Linked DNA regions of Homo sapiens. The protein of the gene in region 2 purifies or fractionates together with the protein of the main gene of each other region. This does not show direct contact. Each region holds a gene or a part of one and is shown on either strand. Other genes may lie near its edges.

Region 1 (3,650 bases), on a different chromosome or scaffold from region 2:
AGTTCTGTAGCTGATGTGGGAAGTACCTTGCCAGTGTCTCCAGCACTGGGTTTTCTAGAATAATCCTCAAGCTTTATAGGTTAGGGGGTTGTGTGTTTACCACATCTTGCTGAGACTTGTCTTTTTCCTGGAGAGCTCTCAGTGCCCATGGATCCACCTACGGACGTAGGCAGATGACCTCCATCTTCACTTCCTCATGGATGCTAACACCAGATGTGCACTCCCCACAAAAACTGGTGTTTCCCAAATGGAACTCATTGTTTCAAACTAGCATAGTGAAAAGCACATGAAATCATCTGGGTTCAAGTTACATCTGAGTGACTCACTGACATCCATATAACCTTGAGCATATTACTTCACATCTCTTTCTGACCCTCTTTGCATCTGTAAAGTGACTAATCAACCATGGAGGGTCGTTTTGAGGATGAAAGGAGGTTTTATGTAAAGCACCCAGCACGTCGGTAGGTGTCTGATGAATGTTAGTTTCCTTCCTATCTTCTGTCTCCTAAGCTAGTCCTTCATTGTTGCCTCACACCTAGGTTTGCTGCTGCTGACTGTAGGTGCTCCTTTTTACTGTTGACTTTGTCTTTCAAATCTGGTTCAAATCAAACTTACACCTCCCTTGCCGAGAATCACGAACTGGCTCCCTGTTTCCTACCTGAAGGAAGTGAGACACTCCCACTAGACTTTCAAAGCCCTCCCTTTTCTTACTCATCCTCCATCCACTATATTCTTACTGTAACCTTATTTTAAAAGATGACACCATTCCACCATGCTCCCACTTCACTGTTCCATAAGCTAGCCACCTGTGTTATCAGCACCACACCAGCCTGGAAGAGCCAGGACCCCAGCGCTGGCTGTCATACGTCACTCCCACAGGCTCTCCTGGTCTAGTGTAGGCACTTAATAAATGCTTGTTGAGTGAAATTTCTCCTCAGATGTTTAGGAACTTGTGCTGAAGAATTTTAGGACAAAATTTCAGAAAATGACCAATTAATACCATGCATATTGTTTTTTCTCCCCTTGTATAAAAATTGTGCTCAGTTTCGAAGACTTGGAAAAGGAGATAAGGGAAAAATATCTACAATTCCACCATTTATAGATGCATTTTATTATCATTTTTAATGATAAAGGCATTTAACCCATTAGATGGTTACTTTGCATTGAGGAGCTAGTATGTGCTAGTGCGGCTATATGTGCACTTTCTTATACATTCTCATTTAATATGAACTTTCAAAAGTAATATGAAATTATATATATTTCAAATTTTTGTACAAAAAATACAGGAATTAGCCAGGCATGGTGGTGCAGGTCTGTAGTCCTAGCTACTTGGGAGGCTGAGGTAGGAGGAGTACTTGAGCCTGGTAGATCAAGGCTGCAGTGAGCTGTGATTGGACCACTGCACTCCAGCCTGGGTGACAGGGTGAGACCCTGTCTCGGGGTGGGGGTGGGATGAAGAAAAGAAAGAAACTGTGAGCTTAGTAGTAATGCCATAACTCTACTTTTGTTGCTTAGATTGGTTTATCTTGGAAGCTAAAGGGCATTGCTCATCCTGAAGATCAGCTGACCATTGACAATCAGCCATGTCATCCAGGCCTCTTGAAAGTCCACCTCCTTACAGGCCTGATGAATTGTAAGTAAATAATTCTTTAGTTATTCTCTTTTAAAAAGTCTATCACATGTAAACAATAAGTATGGTTGAAACTTTAAGTGTTTGCTTTTAAAAATAAAACGATATGTGTACTTGTAAATTTAAATTGTATCAAAGGGTCTGCACTGAAAACTGAATTTCTCTCAACTTTCAGAATGACAGTTTGTCTCTGCTAGGACAACTGCTGTCACCTATTCCTAATGTTTGTTTCAAGAGATTGCCAAGGTTTATATTTGTATGTTCCTTTTTGTTTTGTACAAATGATAATGAAGCTTCCATTTAAATGCCTCATTTAGGTGGCCATTGGGAACATATTGTCAGTTTTTAAAAATAACAGCTTTAGGCCGGGTGCGGTGGCTCACGCCTGTAATCCCAGCACCTTGGGAGGCCGAGGCTGGCGGATCACAAGGTCAAGAGATCGAGACCATCCTGGCCAACATGGTGAACTCCCGTCTCTACTAAAAATACAAAAATTAGCTGGCTGTGGTGGCGCGCACCTCTAATCCCAGCTACTTGCCTGTAATCCCAGCTACTTGGGAGGCTGAGGCAGGAGATTCACTTGAACCCAGGAGGTGGAGGTTGCAGTGAGCCGAGATCACGCCACTGCACTCCAGCCTAGAGACAGAGCGAGACTCCGTCTGAAAAAAAGAAAAAAGGCCAGGCCTGGTGGCTCATGCCTGTAATCCCAGCACTTTGGGAGGCCGAGGCGGGTGGATCACCTGAGGTCGGGAGTTTAAGACCATCCTGACCAACGTGGAGAAACCCCCATCTCTACTGAAAATACAAAATTAGCCGGGCATGGTGATGCATGCCTATAATTGCAGCTATTTGGGAGGCTGAGACAGGAGAATCGCTTGAACCCAGGAGGCGGAGGTTGAGGTGAGCTGAGATGGCGCCATTGCACTCTAGACTGGGTGACAAGAGCAAAACTCCGTCTCAAAAAATAAATAAATAAATAAAAATAACAGCTTTATTGAGATATAATTAACATACTTTACAATTTACCCATTTAGAATGGATAGTTTAATGGTTTTTAGTATATTCACAGAGTTGTAGAACCATCACCACAATTAATTTTAGAACATTTCATTACTCTCCAAAGAAACCTATCCATTGGCAGTCACCTCCCAGTTCCATCAGCCCTAAGCAACTATTGGTCTACTTTCTGTCTCTATAGATTTGTCTATTCTGCATATTTTGTATAAATGGAGAAATCACGTAATATGTGGCCTTTTGTAACTGGCTTCTTTCACTTAGCATAATACTTTCCATACTGTCAGTTTTAAGAGTGATTCCTGCCATGATCTAAAACAAGCAGTGTTGAGGGGTTTTGGGCTCCTTGGTCATGTGAAGACTTATCAGTGAATTTTTGAATTCCAAATTTGCTATCAAACATTGATAGGGATTTCCTCCTCTAAGTAGTTTGCAGCTTTAACCATGATAAGTGTAGTGGAGTGTGATATAGGCAAAAACAAACAGTTTCTCCTGCTGTTCTGTCACAACACATCTGTGACCTCTGATCACCAGAATTTGTGGGGATATTTCCCCACCAGCAACCAAGTAATCAGTTCTACAGTGGACAATAGCTGTGTGTCCTCTAATTATCAGTTCAATTCTGACACTGTCAGAGATAGCATCAGATCACAGGTTCAGGGCTCATTCCCACAAGACTGCCCCCACTTCACGTAGCAGCCACAAGCTCAGGTTGTGGCCTGTGTTTCTGACCCACCTACAGTAAATCAGGATTCCCACAGTTGTCTCCTTGGGTGCAATTAATTTGCTAAAGTGGCTTGCAGAACTCAGGGAAACAGTACTTACCATTACTGGTTTATTATAAAGGGTATTACAAAAGCCAGGTGTGGTGGTGCATGCCTGTTATCCCAGCTACTCAGAAGGCTGAGGCAGGAGGATTGCTTGAGCCCAGGAGTTTGAGGCCAGCCTGGGCAACATAGGGAAACCCTGTCTTTTAAGAATGAATGAATGAATGAACAAACAAATG
Region 2 (3,650 bases):
CAGTTTTTAAGTTGGGAAATGTAGATATTGTCTGTTGCCAAACCTCATGAAACTGCCTCTCAATTGAAGGTATTAATTTTCTTTTTAATTATATTCTAGGCCGGGCGCGGGGGCTCACACCTGTAATCCCAGCACTTTGGGAGGCCAAGGAAGGTGGATCACTTGAAGTCAGGAGTTTGAGACCAGCCTGGCCAACATGGTGAAACCCTGTCTCTACAAAAAATACAAAAATTAGCCAGGCATGGTGGTACATGCCTGTAGTCCCAGCTACTCAGGAGGCTGAGGCTGGAGAATCGCTTGAACCTGAGAAGTGGAGCTTGCAGTGAGCCCAGATGATGCCATTGCACTCCAATCTAGGCGACAGAGCAAGACTGCCTCAAAAAAAAAAAAGTATTTTCTAGTTTTCCAAAATGTTTAAATAAGCATGTGTTCATTTTAGAACCAGAAATTGAGCTAAGACTTGACAGAATCAGTGGTAATCCATACAATCACTATCATGTAAAAATAGCAAAACAGACACAAGCAAAAAGACTAGAAAGCTCTATAACAATATCCTAATGGACATTCCCTCTGGTTTCTGGGTGCTGGGGCTAAGCGTGGTTTTTGTGATAATTTTTGCTTCCTTCTATTTTTCTATATATTCCAGGTCTTCTGCAATGAGTATCTTTTAAGTTTACAGCATGCTTCTCAACATTTTATCACGAAAAATTTTCAAACGTTCAAAATTGAGGCCGGGCGCAGTGGCTCACGCCTTGTAATCCTAGCACTTTGGGAAGCCAAGGTGGGTGGATCACCTGAGGTCAAGAGTGCGAGACCAGCCTGGCCAACATGGTGAAACTCCATCTCTATTAAAAATACAAAAAAAATGAGCTGGGCATGGTGGAGCACGCCTGTAATCTCAGCTACTCGGGAGGCTGAGGCAAGAGAATCGCTTAAACTCAGGAGGCAGAGGTTGCAGTGAGCCAAGATCACGCCATTGTACTCCAGCCTGGGCGACAAGAGCGAGACTGTCTCAAAAAACAAAACAAAACAAAGTTAAAGGAAGTTTTTTAATGAACGTCTGTATACCTGCCACACAGATTGTGCAATTATGTGACTGTATTTGCTTCATCACAAACATGTCCATCTATTCATTCCCTCTGTCCAGTGTCTTTTTTGTTCTTTGTTTTTGTTTTTGTTTTTGTTTTTGAGACGGAGTCTCGCACTGTCGCCCAGGCTGGAGTGCAGTGGCGCGATCTCGGCTCCCTGCAAGCTCCGCCTCCCGGGTTCACGCCATTCTCCTGCCTCAGCCTCCCGAGTAGCTGGGACTACAGGCGCCCGCCACCATGCCGGGCTAATTTTTTGTATTTTTAGTAGAGACAGCGTTTCACCATGTTAGCCAGGATGGTCTCGATCTCCTGACCTCGTGATCCACCCGCCTCAGACTCCCAAGGTGCTAAGATTACAGACATGAGCCACCGCGCCTGGCCCTTTGTTTGTTTGTTTGTTTAATTTAAGAACTAACGCACTGAGGGAGTCCCAAGCGATGTCAGGGCAATGACAACACAGCCGACCCGCGCTCTGTGCTCAAGTTCACGGGGTTCCTGACTCCAAGCCTGCAGTCTTGATCCGCAGCTGTGGTTCTCAGACCTGAGCCTGCACCAATTACAGAAGAGGGGGTTGCTGACATGCAGGATCACTATAGCTTTTTGGCAATTCCCCTCTTCCGCCATCAAGAGCGCGGTGTAAGCGGCCAACGACACCCCTGGAGAACCCCTTCACCTTGGGAGGATGCCCACCTCTGCTTTGGAGGGCCTAGAAACCCATACACTGGCTGAGCTGTGCGCCCGGCACCAATCTAGGCACCTGGGCTCTGTGATCAGGGCGTGGAGCTTTTTGTTCAGTAACAGGAGACAAAAGGTTTTTAAAAAAATACCTTAGTAGGCCGGCGCGGTGGCTCACGCCTGTAATCCCAGCACGCTGGGAGGCCGAGGCGGGTGGATCACCTGTCAGGAGTTCAAGACCAGCCTCGCCAACATGGCAAAACCCCGTCTCTACTATAAAACACACACACACACACACACACACACACACACACACACCTTAGTAAATAAGTAAATAATCTAGAATATGAGAAGAGATCCGAAACCAACAGAAAGAAACAAAAAGCAGAGCGGAGCAGGGTCGGGAGCTGAGCGCTGGTGGGGTGGGGGCACGGGGTGCAATAGGAATTAGAGAGTCAGGGAGACTCCCAGAGCAGCGAGCTGGAGGCGGCCTCGCCTGGAGGCCGGAGATGAGCCTTGCAGATGGCTAACACCTCCGGCAGGGGGAGCAGCCGAGCAAAGGCCCCAGCGGGGCGCGTGTCTGAGCAACAGCAAGGAGGCCAACGAGGCCGGAGTAGGCGTGCGGGGAGGGCAGAGGGTGGGAAGCGGGGGTAGAACGGAGGGTCCAAGAAAAGCAGCCGGTCCGGAAGGCAACGCAGCACCTGACAGCGCTACACCTTTGCCTCTGTCACTGGCAGGGGCCACTGCCAAGTTTAGAACCCAGGAGACTCAGGATCCAACTTGGGTTTTAAAAGGGTCCCTCTGGCTGCTCCGTTGAGAAGAGATGAGATGTAGGGTGCAAGGAGGAGGCGGGAGCCTGCTAGGAGGCAACTGCAGAGAGGGGGGATCTGGGCATGAGTAGTAATGGATGCTGGATCTCCTTTGAAGCTGCAGCCCACCGACTGTGCTGATGGAATGAGGTGGGGTGTGAAGGAAAGAGGAGTCAGATGACTCCAAGGTGTCTGGACAGAGCAACTGGGAGGCGGGATGGGGCTGTTTAGAGACAGAGTAGGCTGGGGGAGAACCAGGCACTCACGCTGGGCAGCGGGTATCCCAACGAGAGGCGGGGACACAGCGCACACATCAGTATGGAGCTAGGGGTCATGGTTTAGAATGAGGATCATCCGTGTTCCTTATGAGATCAGCTCCTCCTGAGAGTTGGAGGCAAAAGCCTGGCTGAAATGTGTTTGAGAGAATGGGGACACAGTGGCATGTGCCTGTAGTCCCAGCTACTCAGGAGGCTGAGGCTGGAGGATCACTTGAGCCAAGAGTTCAAGGCCAGCCTGGGAAACATGTGAGACCCCATCTCTAAAATTTAAAAAATAATAATAATAATAATAAAGAAAAGAGAGAGAATGGGAGAAGATGAACTGGAGGTGATGTCAAAGAGAGCACCTGAGCACCTGAGATTTTTGTTTCGGTCTTGAAAGATGAGGGAAACTTGTATGTGGTAGAGACATAATTTAAACCCAGATCTAAGGACATCCAAATCCTACACACCGTGCTGCAATCATAGAAGCTGGTGGGGAGGAAGTAGCCTTTATGGAGATGTACGGAGAGAGGCAAGCAGGAGATAAGGAGGAGGCGGAAGGAGAGGGCAGGCAGGGCAGGGGCTTCCACTGTGGTGAGTGGGAATCTCAAGGTGCTTTTGGGGTTTGGTCAGAAGCAGGGTTCTTGGGGTGGAGCCCAAGCCTGGAATTTTTTTTAAAGTTCCCAGGTGGGCCGGGCACAGTGGCTCACGCCTGTAATCCCAGCACTTTGGGAGGCCGAGGCAGGCAGATCACGAGGTCAGGAGATCGAGACCATCCTGGCTAACACAGTGAAACCCCGTCTCTACTAAAAATATAA

What was found. The genes of interacting proteins can lie anywhere in the genome.
Region 1: the proteins of PLAAT3 (region 2) and OCLN purify together in Homo sapiens (affinity purification with mass spectrometry; one large-scale study listed by BioGRID and IntAct). This does not show direct contact.

What each region holds. Positions count from the first base shown.
Region 1 is NC_000005.10:69,502,662-69,506,311, forward strand, and holds part of OCLN (occludin), read left to right. Parts: intron 1-1,515; 5' UTR 1,516-1,583; coding exon 1,584-1,633; intron 1,634-3,650. UniProt on the Homo sapiens protein: May play a role in the formation and regulation of the tight junction (TJ) paracellular permeability barrier.
Region 2 is NC_000011.10:63,604,383-63,608,032, forward strand, and holds part of PLAAT3 (phospholipase A and acyltransferase 3), read right to left. Parts: intron 1-3,650. UniProt on the Homo sapiens protein: Exhibits both phospholipase A1/2 and acyltransferase activities. Shows phospholipase A1 (PLA1) and A2 (PLA2) activity, catalyzing the calcium-independent release of fatty acids from the sn-1 or sn-2 position of glycerophospholipids.